Regions from separate parts of the Homo sapiens genome. Here regions 2 and 3 are each linked to region 1. The links come from fine-mapping of genetic effects on plasma protein levels. A gene starts in region 1. Each other region holds a variant in brackets. All regions are shown on one strand. Distances are between the middles of the regions.

Region 1 (6,208 bases):
TGTTTTGGAAGCTGACAAAACATAATGGTTAGAGAAGGAAAGATTTTGTTTAATGCTACTAAGAAGTCACATAATATGAGGGTAGAGAAACAAATGATGGTATAAAATCTGGCAACATGGAGACGATTGGTAAGAAAATTCAAGAACAATGTTTATAATGCTTCATAACTTCCTCATAGCTCTTAGGGTAAATACATATTCTTGGAACCTGCAAGGCCTGGCAAGATTTGGCCATCATCTCCCTCTGAAACCTCCTTATTTTCCAGGCTCTGCTTCTTTCTACATCAGCCTCACATCTCTTCCTGTTCCTTGAACACAGTCTCCTCCTTTAAATTTATTATTTCTGCCTAGAATACTTTCCTTCTCCTCATACTCATTTAACTTATTTTCTTCAGGTCTAGCTCCATTGCTTTTTATTCCAGGAAAACTTCCCAACCTCCAGAATAGACCAAATATCCTATTATATGCTTAAATCACAGTGTGGAAGTATTGCCTTTGTGATGAAAGTGTCATGATGACTGGATAATTAATTATTGTGTCTTCCACTAAAGTGTAGATAGGAAAGAAAGCATGCCTGTTTTTGCTCACCATTTTTTCCTCATGTCAGGTAAAATGACTGGATTACATTAGGAACTTGCTCTGTATTTGTTGAATGAATGAGTGAATGAATGCATGAACAAATGAGTAACATCTGCCTCTGTAGTTAACTTGTAATCTGTTTCTGTCTTTATATAACCTCTACTGTAGGTAGCCTTAAAAATCTGGAAAATGACTTTATTGATTTAAGTAAATATTAAGTTTTTAAGCTTTTAAAAATCTATTGTAAGTTGATTAACTATGATTATTTTGAAATTTTCTTCATCAAAATTTGAGATGACTTTGGATACATACTGTTTTCAGCTACTCAACAAGTGCCATTGTATTTACTATGTATGAAATCTGGTGTTACTTCCTGCCCATTTCCTAGACTCAGTTGTTCTTTGCAAAATACCCATTTATCAGCAACCAGCCCACCCTCCCTCTGGGAATCAGTGAGAGTGGATCACATCAGTATGTCATAAATACTCCTCCTGTTTTCTTTGAGAGTTTTCTGCTGATGCAAGCGGAAGGCTTGGATGCCAGGCCTGTATGTGATACAGTAGAAATTTCCCCAGATGCCCTGTGGAAAGACAAGCTGCTACCCGGAGTCCTTCCTGGATGTCTGGCTTAGTGTAGTATACCATCAAGGACAACCTGGCTCTGTCTCCTAACAAGCTGCTAGGGCCTTCCCTCTTGCCTACCCTCCTGACAGCCTGGACCTCAGGCTAACAAACCTCTGGGTTGCCACTGTCTCCATTCTGAGCCATCAGAATTGTATATACATTCATCTGCTGATGTCTCTGTATTTCAAGCTGTATGTCTTTACACCTTTATAATACACAGTACAGATTTTGCTGCTTAAAATTCTAGTATTTCCTATAGACACTAAACTCAATTTTAACACAATGAATATGTTAAAACATTATATATGTGTTGGATTAACACATATAATGCAACTCATTTGTTGCTAATCTATCTTGGATTCCTTGGGTAGAATCTGTCTTCTCACCTGTCTGAAATGGAATTGAATCTCCTAACTTCTTACTATTTTTTTAAAGCCACAAATCCCTTTTAAAATGTCCGTTTAAGGCTGCTAAACTCACATTGTTATAGAGTATATTTTATATACTTTTCTTCCTTTTAAAAGATCATATACACTTTTCTCCTGGCCTCTAATTTTGCCAAATATTCTGCCATAACAGCAAGCTCACAGAACACAAGTATTTGCTTAAAGATATTTAAAGCAAATCCCCAAAGAGTTTTCTGTTGCAAATGTATTTTAAGACATAGGCTGAGGAGCTGAGTATTCAAATCCATGAGTTCTGACACTGATGTTTTATTAGGCCTACCCACATGAAAATTAGTGCTTACTTGCACAGTTATCTTATTTAAAAATACATTTGCAAAAAGAGAATAATTTCATTTTCACTGATTCAAAGGTCTATCTTTTCGAGTATTATAAACTTACATAGTACAAAAAGATTGGTAAAAGGGATGAGAAAAATAAAGGGCAATAGTAAGGTGAGTAAGGAAAGCAAAATTAAACTTGGAGACTTGGGTTCTAAATATAGCTTGTCTACATCCTAGCTGCAAGATCTTAGGCAACTCAACTAACCTCTCTGAACATCACAGATAAAATGGGGAATAATAACATTATCTAGCTCAAGGGTATCGTACAAATTATACAATATATGTAAAGTGCAAAGCATAGTTCCTGCACATAGTAAGTGCTCCATAAGTTAAATATAATAATAATCATAGTAAAATAATATTCTTAACTACAATCTTATTAAAAGGTTATTACCTAGAGTTTAAGCTGTGGGGTTATTTCCATTTGCACAAAGTGTGATAGAAATTTGGCTCTGTAGTTCCTAGCAGCCAATGTAAGAGTAAAACAAAAAAGTTTGTAAGTATCAAAAGATTTATTTACTTAAATATAAGAACCCTACAATAATGCTTCCAAACTAGGGTTTGCAGAATTACCACAAGGGCTCTGTCTGTCTAAAAGTCCCCCAAGCATTATCTATTGTTCAAATAAATGAGTTGCACATGTGTGTACTTTTATTTTTAAAGGCATATAGATATTGTATTAATAAAACCAATTCATCTAATTGTATTGTTGAATTTATACTTTTTGCCAGTAAGCATTTTCCTAATAGATGGACTTAACTAAGAACATCAGAATGGTGAAGAGCATTGTGTTAATACAATTCATTGTCTTATTTGTTAAAAAAGTTGAAAAAGTATTGCTGAGAAAAAGGAAACAAGTTAACTTTTGTTAAAGGTATCTCTTGGTTTTCACTGTCCTTTCCCTCATCAGTAGCGCCAAGAACATCTTAAGTCACAGAAACATTAGTTTTTGGAAGCAGGGTTTGCTGTAACTATAGTAGAAATGACATTCTGATTCCACTCCTAGCTTCACAAGGATATCTGTGAAAGATTTGGGGCAAAACTGTTAAGCTGTCTGAAAGTGCTTTTGCATAAGAAATGGGTTTTACTGCTAAAACTGTCATATTGCTGAGTTTTGAATGCCCTAATGGTAAATGATACTGGGTTGCCAAAAATAACCAGATTAGTAGTTTTTTCATTCATTTGGCCGTCTCAGTAAGTCAAATATTGATACTTTCTACTAAGTCATCTTGCCAACACCCATTTTGTTATACTTATGCTGAATCTGTTTGTCATCTCTTAAGTAAGAAAATTATTGATTATTTTGTGGGGATTTAATTTAAAAAAAATGGTAATGGATACTGTAAAGGAGCATTATTTGGATGGTTTAAAAACATCTTCCTTGATGGGAAAATCTTTTAAAAGGCTTTCTAACTTGGTGTAATTACTTGAATTAAGGAAGTGCAATGCCATTCTACTGACTTAGAACAACTTTTTTGACTTCCTGCAAAGAGGACCCTTACAGTATTTTTGGAGAAGTTAGTAAAACCGAATCTGACATCATCACCTAGCAGTTCATGCAGCTAGCAAGTGGTTTGTTCTTAGGGTAACAGAGGAGGAAATTGTTCCTCGTCTGATAAGACAACAGTGGAGAGTATGCATTTATTTATTTACTTTTACATTTTTGATTCGTTTTTACAGAGAAAAACTTCTACAGAGATAACAATTATTTTGCTTTTCAGAAGGACGCATGCTGTTTCTTAGGGACACGGCTGACTTCCAGATATGACCATGTATTTGTGGCTTAAACTCTTGGCATTTGGCTTTGCCTTTCTGGACACAGAAGTATTTGTGACAGGTAAGTACAAGGATATTAATATTTTTTAAATTATTTTTTCTCTTTTGGAGGAATGTTTGAAATAGACATAAAAATAATTTAAATGTGTTGGTAACTGGAAGTGAGAAGCCTGCTGTAAACCATCAAGATTGTTGTCTCAGGGAGACATAGCTAGTTGTGTGACAGAATACATTGTTTCTGTTTACAAAGACATAAATGTTTCGGGACAAAAAATACAATTTTAAAAGGAAAGCAATGTCTATCTGTATCTTTATTTACAACTGTTCAAAGATATTACAAAAGCAACATTATTACTTAACTTCCAAAGTGACAATAACACACATTTATAAAAGCCTGAGAATTTTTTAATGATAAAATAAGTGAGTTTTTATTCTTTTAACAAATTTGATCTTTTAAAAAGTCATAAAACAGCTTTGGTTGTATGTAAGCCACTCCCTCTTTTCAGACCTGAAGTTTGCTTCCTCAAATTTTGAATTTAATTGACATATTTTATTGAATACTTGGGTATATAATAGTTCAAAAATATATTGAGATATTTAGTAAAATATTAACTTTCTGCAATTTTTATCACAGAATGTATTTTAAATCAAGTTTTTAGTTTCTTGTTAATAGTTTTAATACATTTTTGCTTTAGAAATTCTTGTGGAGCCACCGCCCTTCCTGGGTGGTGGGTAAATATTACAGCCTTGATGAGATAGAAATATTTAAACTCTTAAAAATCATGCAAATGCTGTATTCAGTAGGAAAATGCAACTAGTTGGACTTCCAGTGCCTATTAAAGTTTGAAATCTTTGCACATTTATGGTCTATTCAATGGATAGTTCTTGAGCGGCGTCAATATGAATCATGAGTACATTTCAATAGATTATAGAATGTAACTAATAATTAATATTTAATATTTCTCTTTATGATGTAGTATCTAAAAGGACATTGAAAATAAAATTTTTGTAGAAATTCCAAAAAGTATAAAAAGTATTTTAAAACAACTTGCTTATTACAATTCACTTTGAAGTCTTTTTTTGACTTTTACCGTTCTTCTTTCCTCTGAAAGTCAGGGAAGTAGCTACCTCTTGAGCATGTTACATTGACAATTTCTATTTGGAGAGGAAAGAAAGAGGAAAGAAAAACAACATAAGATTTTTGTTGTTGTTGTTGTGGCTGTTTTGCTTTTTATTGCAAAGGTGAATTTTTTAAAAATCTATATATTTGCAGCATTTGTCTTAGTACAGAAAATGTTTATCAAGTTACCATCCCTTTAAAGCTTATGATAATAAAAAGTAAATTATAAAGAATAATAATCTCAATGAAGTGATATATGTATATTATCACAAATCAGAACAGATTTTCATTTAAAATTCCCACTCAGGAAATGTCGAAAAGCATTTTTAAATGAGCATAAAGAAATACTGAGACATTTTGTAAGCCAGAATATTTTTCTTCTCTTCATATTCATTTAACTTCTATTATTTTCTTCAGGTCTAGCTCCATTGCTTTTTATTCCAGGCAAACTTCCCAACCTCCTGAATAGACCAAATATCCTATTATATGCTTAAATCAGAGTGTGAAATATTTCCTTTGTGAATAAAAATTCAACTCATTCTATTACAGGATGTTTTTTTAACCATAAGACACATCTTTGAATTTATAATTGAAATAATATGATGGGGTCTAGAAACCTTTATATCAACTTTGCTGAATGATTTATACCATAGCAAATAAATGGATATACATAAATTTATTTTGAAAACTCAACTTTATCTTCAGTTGCTCACATAAATATTGAGAGCAAACATTTTTCTAAAAGACATTTGTAGACTCCCTGAGATATATGCTTATTTGTGGAAAAACATATACAGATATAATCATTTGTATCTGCAAATATTGTTTATAATCCTTTCAAGTTGCAAGAAACATTTTGTGATTTAATGTATAATTTGGAAAATTCTTAATGCTTTAAATTATTTATTTTTCTTTTTTAGCAACAAATGAGTTGGATTCTATGTTTCATTTTAACGTGTTAAAATTAGTTTAGTGCCTACAGGAAATAATAAACTTTTGGGGAACAAAATTTATATTGTATGCTGTAAAGGCATAAAGAAATAGAGCCAAATGTAGAGAGCCATCAATGGTAACTCTATGCATAATTCAAATATTTTATTTAATATCTAAAATGCACACACGGACAAGGCCAAAGTTAATCTTTGCCACGGCAACAACCAGGCAGGGTTCAGTTTTACTCAAGACTTCCTAATCCTCTTGCTCTGTGCCTCTTTGCCATGGCAACTGGAAGCCAAACTTTGTTTAGAATTTCTAAATAATGTTAGGGGACAATGATGGTTTTAAGAAGGCAGGTGAAGGTGAGTGTTCTCTGGTTCTAATAAA
Region 2 (6,208 bases), 1.3 Mb before region 1:
AAACCTCTGGGATACAGCAAAAGCAATGTTAAGAGGAAAGTTTATAGCATTAAATGCCTACATCAAAAACCCACCTCATGTTGAAGTACATGTCTTTGAACTGCACTGCTCACTACCTCTTTTGGTTGCAACATTCTTCCTACCTCACGGTACCTTCTCCTCAGTCACTGATTACCTTAATATCTTACTCCTGTCATCATTTTGAGGATTTCAGCATCCGTGTAGACAACCGATACAAACCATTATCTCTGTTATTTGAAATCCTTATTTCCAATGACTGTGACTGCCATGCCACACACACTTCTGCCCACTTCTTTGGTCATAACTTAGGCCTTATTATCGCTGATAACCTTCCTAAAAACATCACTTTAAATCATTCTGTTTTATGACCAGAACCTCCAATTATTCCAGTTCATATACTTTAGAACTTTTTCCGTTGAGCCTAGTCTGTTGTCTTAACCACTTTTTTTCCAGTCATTGCCTCACTTACCTTCTGTCTCAGCTAAGGTTTCAAGGTCCAGCACTATAATTATTCCCTTGCATATACCTTCGGCTCACCTGATTCTTTCTCTCTTCATTGTACTTGCCTGACAAAGGTACAATTATGGTTAAATCAATCCTCTACCTTCTCCACACTTACAACCAATTTGAATGTGGTTGGAGAAAAACTCACAAGCCACACACTGAACTGTTGAGTGTCACTTTAAATTTATGGTGCCAAATCTCATGGGGCCTTTAGCACTAGATAAAAATCCTTCTAGAGCTCTACTTCCCAAGATGAGCCTTTTTAAATCTTCTATTTCTTCAAACTTCCAATACCTCCTCCCTCATTGTTACCCTAAGTTGATCATCAAGTCTAATTTCATCAGGAAAATAGTATCTTCCTGCCACCAAAAGTGTTGTCAGTTCTGAGGTTTGATTTTTATCCTTTTTACAAGCTCATACGTTATCCTGTTCCTGTTTTGTGAATGCTGGCAAAAGACATAAAACTTTGTGTCAGGAAAAAATGCACAACCAGCAGCATGAGCCTCAGGTTTACATGAATTACCCTTGCACCCAACTCCCACAGGGTTGGTACTACATGGGCCCAGATGAGTACTGCACAGACAGATTTTTGTCGCAACTGATGAACATCAAGTTGGGGAATTCATCGCTTTTACGGTAAGCAGTAAGAAGCCTGCTCCTTGTCCCAGAGGGAGACATTACTTCATTCTTCAGAGATGCTTGCTGCAAAACCAACCCCAAGAAATGGGCAGGTAAAGATCAGTCAGGGCCTTGCATTCTTAGGATTCCCAGTAAGAAACTGCCAGGACACACAGGGCCCATGATGAGTTGCTTCTTCCAGCAATCCATCCCATGACCCCACTTGTTCTTGGCTGAACTCGAATTTTCATATGAATATGCCACTCCATGAGCCACCCTGCTTAATGTGACTGACAGAGACTGGGATTAAATCTGTTCAATTTGCCTCATGCAGCATTTAATTAAGGAGACTATCAAGAGGACTCTAAGCAATAAGATGAAGTCAACCTGTAGTATACATTTCAACTCTACTCCCCAGGGCCCTGGACTCAGCCAATTGTACATAAGTCCCAGGGGCACCAATCATCATCTTAACTTTAGATAGCCAGAAAGTAGTCTAAAGCCAGTCAGTTATCCATTGTGACCCACGTAAGGGAGCTTAGATTGACATACTGATCTTTGATGTCATTACCAATAATGACAGGGGCAATAAACGAGCAACACTAACCCCCAAAGGAGAGACATTCCCCCACATACAAACATATAACACAAAGGGACAGACTCTAGTTCAGAATTTCTGGTTAAAATTGATTTATACCTTTGTTACATTGGTTTGGTTAATTCAGTACAACAGAAGCATCGCTTGCAGCTCCCATTGCCATTTATGGCAACACTTAAGCTGCCTGAGTATTAGGAAAAGCGTATGAATATATGTTATTAAGATTGAGGTTGGGCACAGTGGTTCACACCTGAAATCTCAGTGCTTTGGGAGGCCAAGGCAGGAGGTTTGAGACCAGGTTAGGCAATATAATGAGACTCTGTCTCTTTAAAAAAAAAAAACAAATAAAAAAACTGAAACAAAGTTGTGGGACCTATCTCTTTGTACGCATACAAGGCTGAGGAGGAGGCAGTTCAGGAGCTTCCATTAGTGGTGTCAGCTATGGTGAAGTAGTTTAGGACCAGCCAAGTTTGCAAGACTTTTGGTGTTTTTATAACACCTGGACAGGGATGACAAATCCTGTAGTGAGTTTAGATTGTCAACTGCAGCTGCTCCTAGATTCAGCTAGACCATACAATTGTTTTGCCAGCCTGCATTGCTGAATCTAAGGAATAAGAAGCCTAAGTGCCTCTCTCCCCTGAACTGCCTGGGGTTTAAAGTGATCTGTGCTCGGGTGCTAGAATTGTTATTCTCCCTCCATGGCCATGAAACTAGGGTGTCCCAACCCAGTAGCTATAACTTTACCTCTTCTCCAATCATCTGCTCATACCAATACCTTTTGTCCAGAGAGGTCAGACATGAATAGGAATAGGTCACTTTAAAAAATATTTACTGAGATTCATTCATTATATTTCCCACTTAGTCCAGTTAGGTTACTATAAGTAATTATACTAGTTGGTGAATAGTATATTCAACCAGTGTTCATTGTCTTTATGATCTAAGACCATGTTAATTCAATAAAAGAATCCAGGTAGCTACATCAAGTTAAGTTTGAATCTCTTAGTCTCCCCTTTAGATGTGGCTGCCCTTCAAAGTGTGTACAAATCAGGCTGACATGAGGTTGTCACTAGGGGAAGAAAATACACTTCAGGTTCATAAATGGTCAAGGCATAATCATGAATTTTCAAAATAAGTTTACATAATTTTTCTACCCATCCATCTTGATCATTACCTAGGAGTTGGCCAACAGGAGACAAATCTTTCCTGCCCATGGCCATATTTAATGCTCAAACAGCCTTAATAAACTGTTTTAATAAAATCTGTGGGCCAGAAAGAGGCAAAGAAGGTAGATACAGAAAGGAGGGAGAGTCAGAAATCTTCAGGATTGGTTTCCAAAAAGTCTATTCCATATCTCAATGATGCCAGCAGCCTTATCAGAGAATGATAAGAGTGTGGAATGTCCATTGAATATGTTTACTACTGGCCCATTGCTAGGTGGCCTTTATGACAAAAATACACCATTGTCAGATTGTAGATGGTCTTGAAAACTGAAAATAAGAATCAGATTATCAAACTGAAATAGCAGCAAAATAATCTAAAAATATGTCAATATTAGCAAGGCACCAATGGTAGTCCCAAGAGAGGGTCAGAGATCTGACACAGCCAATTTTCTAGAAGTGAGCAGGGAAAATGCTCCTTGTAATGTGGCCTCCTTTACTGCAAAACAATCAGGCCAATTTTTGGCAGGAGTCTCCTTTGGTATGCAGTTTCTAGATTAGAAACATATAGTCCTTTGCTGTAGTTCGTGGTAGTGGATATGTTTTCTGGTAAGAGGATGGATCCAGATAATGATGGAAGCCATCTAGATAGATGCTGGGTAATCCATTTGATTCTAGTTGTTCTCATTAGGGGTTATAGCAACAGCCACCAGAAAACCATACTATCCCCCAGTTGGGAGTGCAAGGAATGGAGGATGATGGGGAGATTAGCCTATGGGAGTGGACGTGGGAAAAGGCTTGGTCCTTTCTAAGGGGCTGGTGACCAAGTGCCAGAGCTGCTTCCTATCCATGTATATCCTGATATCTGATGAGTGTCAGGGCCCAGAGGACCCCTTTTTTCTTGCCCCC[C/A]CTGCATGCCATTGTGCTCTGCCCTGTCAAAGGGTAGTCACCAAGCAAGAACAGTGCCACACCTGAGTAAGCTAGTAACTTGAGATCTCATATAACAATGTTATTTCTTCTTAAAGAAGTTGATGTTGTGGAATAGGGAGGGGGAGGAATCAGGGGTCATAGAGGGAGAGAGCAGCTCGACACTAGTAAACAAGGTTTTACATTCAATTTCACTTTCAATTCAATTTCTCTTGCTTGTGGCTCAATCAAATAAACTCATCATCATCAAATAAAATCATCATTTTTTTTTCTAACTAAAGTTCTATATTGAATTGAAATGATGTCATTGTTGACTCCATTTATTTCATCTTTCAGTACTCCTTGACTCAGCTGTCACAGATACGTTGCCTTCTGGCTGGAGCCACAGGGCTTGCTGCCCTATTGTCATAATAATGTTTTTTCCTCCTCCCACCTAGAGGAGAGCTAGAAACAACCAAGGCACCATATAAGGCTGTTTGTTTTAATCCCAATCTGATTGATGGGCAGGACCTTGGGGGTCTTTTGCTTCCCTCTTTCACCTACCATTTCAGTGGGAGTCCAGGGAACTCATCTTCTACATCTGAACCCATCCCAAAGGCTCTTAACATTTTTCTTCCAGAAAGACATGTCTCTTTCAGGATCTCATCTTTGTTGCCATAACTGTTGGGTCTGAGATTTAATTTTACCCTGTTTATAAAGGAATGAGTTAGCCTGTTACTGTTTCATGGATGCTGGCAGAAGACACTAAACTCTTGGGTCAAAGACAAATGACTATATTACTCACAGCACAGCAGACTGCATGAGTATCATGTTTATGTAGGTTTCTTTTGCATTCAAGTCTTACAGGGGTGATTTGCTAGATGGATGGTGTACCTGCAGTGGATTTGCATCACAGCTGAGGAACAATAGCTTGATAAATTATCTGTTTTCATAGCAGGCAGTAAGCCAATCTGTTTTTTGTCCCAACTTTGAACCTCATGTTTCAAAGTTGCTTGCTGCAAAAACCAATCCTGAGAGATGGCCTGGGTAGAATGGTAAGGATCTTGCATTCTTGGTACAACCAACAAGAATTGCAGTGATCCTCAGTGCCCATGGTATATGGACTCTCCCAACACCTACCTATCTATCTGTCACTCATTTACTTGCCGCCTCCCAATTCCTGCCTATGTTTGGACTACTTTTCCATTACAACATTCCCACCTGAAGTTTACTTATGCATGGCACCCTGTTCATTCTCTATGATTCAGGATCTTTAGCAATTATTCTTTATACATCTTGCATCATTGATTTTCCACTCTATTCTAAATCATTCTAATTGGCTTGCCTATCTATCCTCTGGAAAAAAAATGCTCCTTAGAATGCATACACCTCCTCAGATATCCTCTTCTGTATTCCACCCTCCTCTAAAGAGATGTGTATACTTACTCTCTACTTTTTCACTTCCCGGTAACCTCCCCATTAAGGCAGTTTTTGTTACTTCGGTGAAAACTTCCCTGTCAACAATTTCCATTTGCTAATCTAAAACTTAATTTTAAGTCCTTATCTTAACTGGCCTCTAGTTTACAGTTGTTCTCTCTGACCTGCTGGATATAATTTCTTTATTTAACATCTGCCCCCTTTTCTTCTTGTTCACTATCATTCTATTGCTAGCATATCCTCTATTTTCTAGACTCTAAATGCTGGAGTCCCCTAGGATTCAATCCTTAAACATATTTTTTCACCCCTTGGAAAATCTCATGTAATCTCTTGACTTTAAATTTTAGATAGATGTTTACAACATCTAAATTTTTGTCTCCAGCCCTAGCTCCTCTCTTGAACTTCCCTTAACTTTTGTATTTAGATAGCTAAAATGATTTTCAAACATAACATAACCCAGGCAAAACTTTTTATTTTTTTATCTTCATGAAACCCAAAAGAAAAAAATTAAGCTAAAGCAAACAAACAAAATAATCACAAAACAAAACAAAAATTCACAAAACGACAAAAACACTTCTTCCCCATCTCAGTAAGTGGTAACAGCATATTCACCCAGTTGGTCAGGCCATAAATTCAAAGCCGTATTTGGTTTCTCTCTTTCTTTAATATCCCACATCTGATTCCTCCACACAGTTTGTTGGCTTCTCCTTTAAGCTGTGTTTCAAGCACGATCATACTTCCCACCTCTACCATTTCTACTCTAGACCAAGCCACTGTCATGTCTCACCTCAACTACTTCAATAGCCTAATGTTTTGGTGTTCTTCCATTCTTGACTTTCTAAATCAGTTCTCCACACAGCTTTGGTAGTAACATAATATGCATCAGATCATGTGAGTCTTCCATTCAAACAGTCCAGTGGCTCACATGTTCTCAATAAAACTTGTACTCCTTAACATATTCTTGGAA
Region 3 (6,208 bases), 72 kb after region 1:
GGGAGATGTTTATGTGCACTAAATATAGTTTATCCTGCTAAGTGATTGTCTGCAAGCTTTCTTTATTCTCCTCTACTTAAATGAAGTATTAATTATATATGTACATATATTTATTCTTTTAAGTACAAATTTATCTGAAATATATTAGGGAGAAACATAAAGGATTTGATGTGTATGGGAAGAACCAAAATACATTCATAAAAAGGAAGGTTATGGTCATGTTAGTGAGATCAAGTTGGTTTTGTCAGCTAAGCTACTGCTTGGAAAGAGGAGGGGGTGACAGGCGTCGGGCAGACTCTGGGGAAGCATCTCTTAGCCAAATGCATTCTGGAAAAGGGATTCCAGAGCCGTGTAATTTTTTTAAAAAGTCATATCATTTAATAATTCAAGACTATTAATAAATTTGTTAACATTTAAATATGTTAACATCAAATGTATTTTGAAAATAAAATCCATTTAATTTATTCATTTTCCCTAAATATTACTGAGATAAATTACCAATTAAACACAGAAGATGACAATACTTAAAAATGCATTTCCCAATAGGGAAACTCCCAATACACTTTATAATAATCATTCAATTAAAAGTAAGTAAAGAGTAAACAAAAAATTTAAGATAAAAACAAAAATACAAAATGGAATGAGTGTTTTTTAAAATGTGCGAAAGCTACAATTTTATCAATATGTTTGCTTGCATTTCATTTTTTAACGTGGTATAACTTATAAATGAAACACTACCAAAATATATGGTGCTAAAAATAATAAAGTAAATAATAAAAGAAACAAATCCCTAGAGTTATTAGACTTTTCCCATAGCAATCTCAATCCTTGCCAAATTCTATGTCATTAGCATAATTTCAGTGGCTTTAACTGACATGTTAGGAATGAATGAGGGCTTAGGATACACATTATGAAATACTAATCAAGTTTATTTCTGTATCTTCTTGTCAGGGGTTGAAAAGTTTCAGTTACATGATTGTACACAAGTTGAAAAAGCAGATACTACTATTTGTTTAAAATGGAAAAATATTGAAACCTTTACTTGTGATACACAGAATATTACCTACAGATTTCAGTGTGGTAAGAATATAACATTGACCAGAGAATTTTTTTTTGTGGCACAATGTTGTTCTAGATATTATTTAATCTTACTCTCTGCCCTTTCTCTCTTCCTCCCTGCCTCTCTTGTTCTCCCTCTGTTTGTCTTTTTTCTTTCTTGTCTTTTTCTTGGTCTGTGGTATATTTAGAGTCAAATAATTAAATTACCTATACAATTCAAACAAATTCACAAAATAAATGAATACTTTTCATGAAAAATAAATATCTAAAAATTGAAAGTCAATTAATTTACAATAATTTTCTTGGCAATTGTTATACACAGGCATTGTTGAAGAGATCATGAAAGAAGGGTGTTATAAGGAAATGATAATACACAAACTCTGTTATGAAGTAAGGAAAAAAAATACAGGATTGTATGGTTCAAGAGTTTACTTTTTCCATCCTGCATCAACAAAATTCATACACAAGTTCAAGAACACTTAAATAAGAAGAAAGCAGAAAAAGAACAGCAAGTGCATCTAGGGATATGTTTGGATTTGAATTGAGGCAACTAATAATTGAGATAGTATTTTTAAAGTGTATTTGAATTTAATGAGGTGAACTCTCCCACCCTTTGACTTAAAGCCATCTGCCAGGCCATAGCTGGCATGACAGACAGATGTGCTCAGGTGTGCATGCGCATGCACGCATATCCACAGCTACACACATAGAGGATGGAGCATTGCGCTGGGTGTAATCATCACCTAATCACCATAGTATAGATTCATGGCCATCAGGCAAGCAGACAAGGAAAGGAAGAGCAATCATGACAGACCAATGATAAAATGTTCTCTCTAGACAATCTATTAGATGAAGACTAGGTGAGGTGCAATTTCAACTTTAAGTTGTATTTGCTATATACAGATTGGGCATCCCTAATCTGAAAATCCAGAATCCAAAATGTTCTCAGAATCCAGTACTTTTTGAGTGCCAACATGATGCGGCTCAAACAAGTGAAAAATTTTACACGTGACCTAAAGTGACTGGTCATAGTCAAAATGCAGAAACATAACACAGAATTTAGTCAGCATCCCCAGAGAAAAATAAATGACCTCAAGCTATGTATATGAGGTATATATGAAACATAAATGAATTTTGCATTTGAACTTGTGTCCTCTTCCCAATATATTGTATCATCTAAATGCAAATATTCCAAAATCTGAAAAAAAAAACTAAATCCAAAACACTTCTGGTGCCAGGAATTTTGAATAAGGGAAACTCAGCCTGTATTTTCATAAAAGTTGAATGTAAAAATTATTTTTAGGGTTTTTTATTATTTTGGTAATTTCCACAGATGTTTCAATCTGATAAATATTAAATAGAGAATTATAAATGTGAAATTAGAAAATAAATGTGTGCGTGAAATATTGCATCGATATATTCATTCGAAATATTTCTTTATTTCAGGTAATATGATATTTGATAATAAAGAAATTAAATTAGAAAACCTTGAACCCGAACATGAGTATAAGTGTGACTCAGAAATACTCTATAATAACCACAAGTTTACTAACGCAAGTAAAATTATTAAAACAGATTTTGGGAGTGAGTATGTTACTTGCATTTATATGTAAAATTGCTTCTCTCTTCATGTTCTTATAATTATTTGAGAATCATAGGAAATGAATTGTCTTTTTGCTGTTTTTGATACTTTTTAAGCATATGCTTTTTATTTCAATGAAGCGCAATTTATCTATTTTTACTTCTTTTGCTTATGTTTTTGGTGTCGTATATGAAAGTCCATTGCCAAGTCATGCAGATTTATCCATATGTTTTGTTCTAAAAATTTTATAGCATTGGCTCTTAAATTTAGCTCTGTTACCCACTTTGAGTTAATATTTGTATATGGTGTGAGGTAACAGTCTAATTTCATTTTGTTGCATATGGCCATCTAATTTTTCCAGCGCCATTTGCTGAAAATACTATTTATTCCCCCACTGAATAGTCTTGCCATTCTTATCAAAAATTAGTTGACCATAATGATGGGTTTATTTCTGAACTTTCAGTTTTATTTTATTGATTTATATGTCATACTTACACTGTCGATTACTGCTGCTTTGTAGTAAATTTTGAAACTGGAAACTGTAAGTTCCCCCAAATTGTTACTTTTCCTCAAGATTGTTTAGAATATCTAAGGGAACTTGGAATTCTGTATGAATTTTAGGATCAACTTTTCAATTTTTATAAAGAAGCCATCTGGGATTCTTTCAGGGATTGCATTGAATCTGTGGATAAATTTGGGAAATATTGCCATCTTAACCATGTTAGTCTTCCAGTTCATGAACACAAGATATCTTTCCATTAATTTATGTCTTCTTTAATTTATTTTCAAAATGTTTTGTAGTTTTCAGTGCATTAGTGTTATAATTCTTCTGTTAAATTTATTTCTAGTTTAAGTTTATTCCTGGTTATAATGCTGTTGTTTTCTTAATCACATTTTCAGGTTTGTTACTAATGTACAAAAGTACAATTGATTTTTCTGTATTGATCTTGCAGTCTGTCACATTACTGAATTTGTTTATTAATGATAATATTGAGAAATTTTTGACAAAACTTATAAATGTAATTCTAAATTTTGTTTTGTTTTGATTTTGAGACGGAGTCTC[G/A]CTCTGTTGCCCAGGCTGGAGTGCAGTGGCGTGATCTCGGCTCACTGCAACCTCTGACTCCTGGGTTCAAGCAATTCTCCTGCCTCGGCCTCCCAAGTAGCTGGGACTACAGGTGCGTGCCACCACGCCCTGCTAATTTTCTGTATTTTTAGTAGAGATCAATCTCCTGACCTCATGATCCGCCCACCTTGGCCTCCCAAAGTGCTGGAATTACAGGCATGAGCCACCATGCCCGGCCCGTGATTCTAAGTTTTATGTAAAAAGGATAGTTGAAGGCTAAAGAGGCTGCCTAAATCCTTGTCTCCTCATACTTCTCCAAAATAATATATAGCTACAAGAACAGCAAATAAAACTATGTAAAAACTATATCCTCAGCATAACTAGAAAATTTTAATGTATTTTTATTAGTACCACAATTATTACATTCTTTATAATCAATGCAACAAAATAGAAATCCCAGAAAACTATGTTTTATATTTGAAAACAGCACAAAATGTTTTCAGTGGGGGAAAAATAGTCTTTTCAACTAATGATCCTGGTATCTCTGTAGAAAAAAAATGAACATCAGCTCTCACCTCTCAACAAACACAAAAATTAATTCAAAATGGATTCCAGACCTAAATACTAAAGCTATAATTTAAAAAATTCTAATCAAAGACATAGGAGAAAATGTGTAGCTTTAGCAAAGATTTCCTAGGGCACAAAAGCAAGAAACATAAAACTTTTTTGATGAATTGGAGTGCATAAAAATTGAATATTCCTGCTCTTTGGATGAGGCCACTAAGGAAATAAAAAAGCAATAAATAGTTTGTAAAAAATCAAAATTAATTTTTTCAACAACAGAAGTTTTTCCAGAATATACAGAGAGCTCTTTCAGCTGCAAAATAAGGACTAAAACAGCTCAATTGAAAATGGACAAACATTTTTAATATATACTTCACAAAAGAGGATACACAGGTGGTTAATAAGCACATTAAATGATGCTCAGCATCATTAGTTAACTGAGAAATACAAATTAAAACAACACTGAGATGATAATACTATACATCCATTAAAATGGCTAAACTTAAGAATACGGATACTACTAACTATTGGTCAGGATGTGCAGCCATGACCCAGGAATTTCACTCCAGGTATTTACCAAAGAGGAAACATGACAAAGCAGATGCATTCATAGTAGCCAAAACCTGGAAACAGCCCAAATGTGTATTCACTGTTGAATCCTAGGTAAAATGTGGTGTATCTTTACAATAACTACTGATAATTTTTTAAAATTCTAACTATGACACATGCAACTAAGTGAATGAATCTTCAGAACATTACATTGAGTGCAATATGTTAGGAGTGAAAAAGTACTTACTGTTTGTTTCATTTTATTTACATGCAATGGGTAAAAAGACAAACTTAATCTGTAGTTAACAGAAAGTTGATCAGAAGGTACGTGAGTCTGGTCAAAGGAGCTGAGTTGACTGGGAAGTACCACAGAAGGACATTTTGGGATCACAGAAATTTTCTTTATCTTGATTGTGGTGTTGGTTATGTGGATGTATACATTTGTTAAAAATGCATTAAACTGTATCTCAAATGGGTACATTTTAATGTAAATTTTACTTCAGACATTTTATTTAAACATTTATCAGTTTTTCTCAGTTTCAAATGACTAGTTACTGGAAGCAATGACAAGTGCTACTCAATGACTGCTAAATTTATTGGTGCTATGAATGCCAGATTTTTAGCACAGCAAAATCTACAAATTCCAGGATTTTTAGGTAGTATCTGGGCAAGAATATATATGAATAATGTATATGAAAGGAAGAGGGGGTTCTTAGATATCTTCAAGTCAGTGGAATGCTTAGGTTTCACAGTGCCAATCTGGTGTGACATTTACTTTGTTAAAGGAATTTACTCTAAAACAAATTAAATGAGCCCAGATGCATTTCTTTAAATTTTATTTTGAATTCATCATTTGTCAAAATATGGTTATCAATAATGCATGCTTATAATATGAAGAATGCTTTATCCATGTCTTATTTTTCATATTACATAACATTCTTATTCTTTTAACAGGTCCAGGAGAGCCTCAGATTATTTTTTGTAGAAGTGAAGCTGCACATCAAGGAGTAATTACCTGGAATCCCCCTCAAAGATCATTTCATAATTTTACCCTCTGTTATATAAAAGAGACAGGTAATTTGTGTAGAATTTAATTTCATCAGAAAAGAGAAATCAAGAATTTGAAAGTACTAGAAATTTTTATTGAGCCAGTGAGTCACAAAGCTCTCTGCTTAGAGACTGCATAGGCATAGTATACTCCCTGATCTTAGAATTGCTTCCACTCATTCAAAGCTTTCCAGCCCCAGAAATGACTAAAATCCAGAACATTCTAAATATTTGCTTGTCCTTCTTGGTCTTAGTTTAAATCTTTGTGCTCCAAAGCCTAGAGACAGAAAACCTCTGGATGACAACACTCATTTCTGTCTTGCAAGTATTATGTAAGTGATTTG

Alleles and levels. Alleles are on the strand shown, and positions count from the first base shown. The strength of an association depends on the size of the effect and on how common the allele is. Not every link is listed here.
For the plasma level of the protein whose gene starts at base 3,525 in region 1, C is the low allele of the variant in region 2 and A is the other (weak association).

What was found. PIP is the posterior inclusion probability: the model's chance that the variant is causal. The UK Biobank Pharma Proteomics Project read protein levels with antibody pairs (Olink). The fine-mapping took linkage between variants from a reference panel, not from the people measured, so its PIPs are less certain.
Region 2: its variant is fine-mapped to the plasma level of the PTPRC protein (UK Biobank, PIP above 0.99).
Region 3: its variant is fine-mapped to the plasma level of the PTPRC protein (UK Biobank, PIP above 0.99).

Annotation. Positions count from the first base shown.
Region 1 is chr1:198,635,516-198,641,723 of GRCh38, forward strand. It overlaps PTPRC (protein tyrosine phosphatase receptor type C), which reads left to right and starts at 3,525. Exons shown (of 33, transcript NM_002838.5): 1 at 3,525-3,622; 2 at 3,711-3,826. The coding sequence starts at 3,754.
Region 2 is chr1:197,370,643-197,376,850 of GRCh38, forward strand. The region is part of intron 5 of CRB1 (crumbs cell polarity complex component 1); the gene reads left to right. Among named protein-coding and RNA genes, the nearest start is that of CRB1, 110 kb to the left of the region's middle. The variant C/A (reference allele first, on the strand shown) is at 3,808.
Region 3 is chr1:198,707,182-198,713,389 of GRCh38, forward strand. PTPRC (protein tyrosine phosphatase receptor type C) reads left to right here. Exons shown (of 33, transcript NM_002838.5): 10 at 952-1,080; 11 at 2,506-2,643; 12 at 5,772-5,891. Among named protein-coding and RNA genes, the nearest start is that of PTPRC-AS1, 43 kb to the left of the region's middle. The variant G/A (reference allele first, on the strand shown) is at 3,705.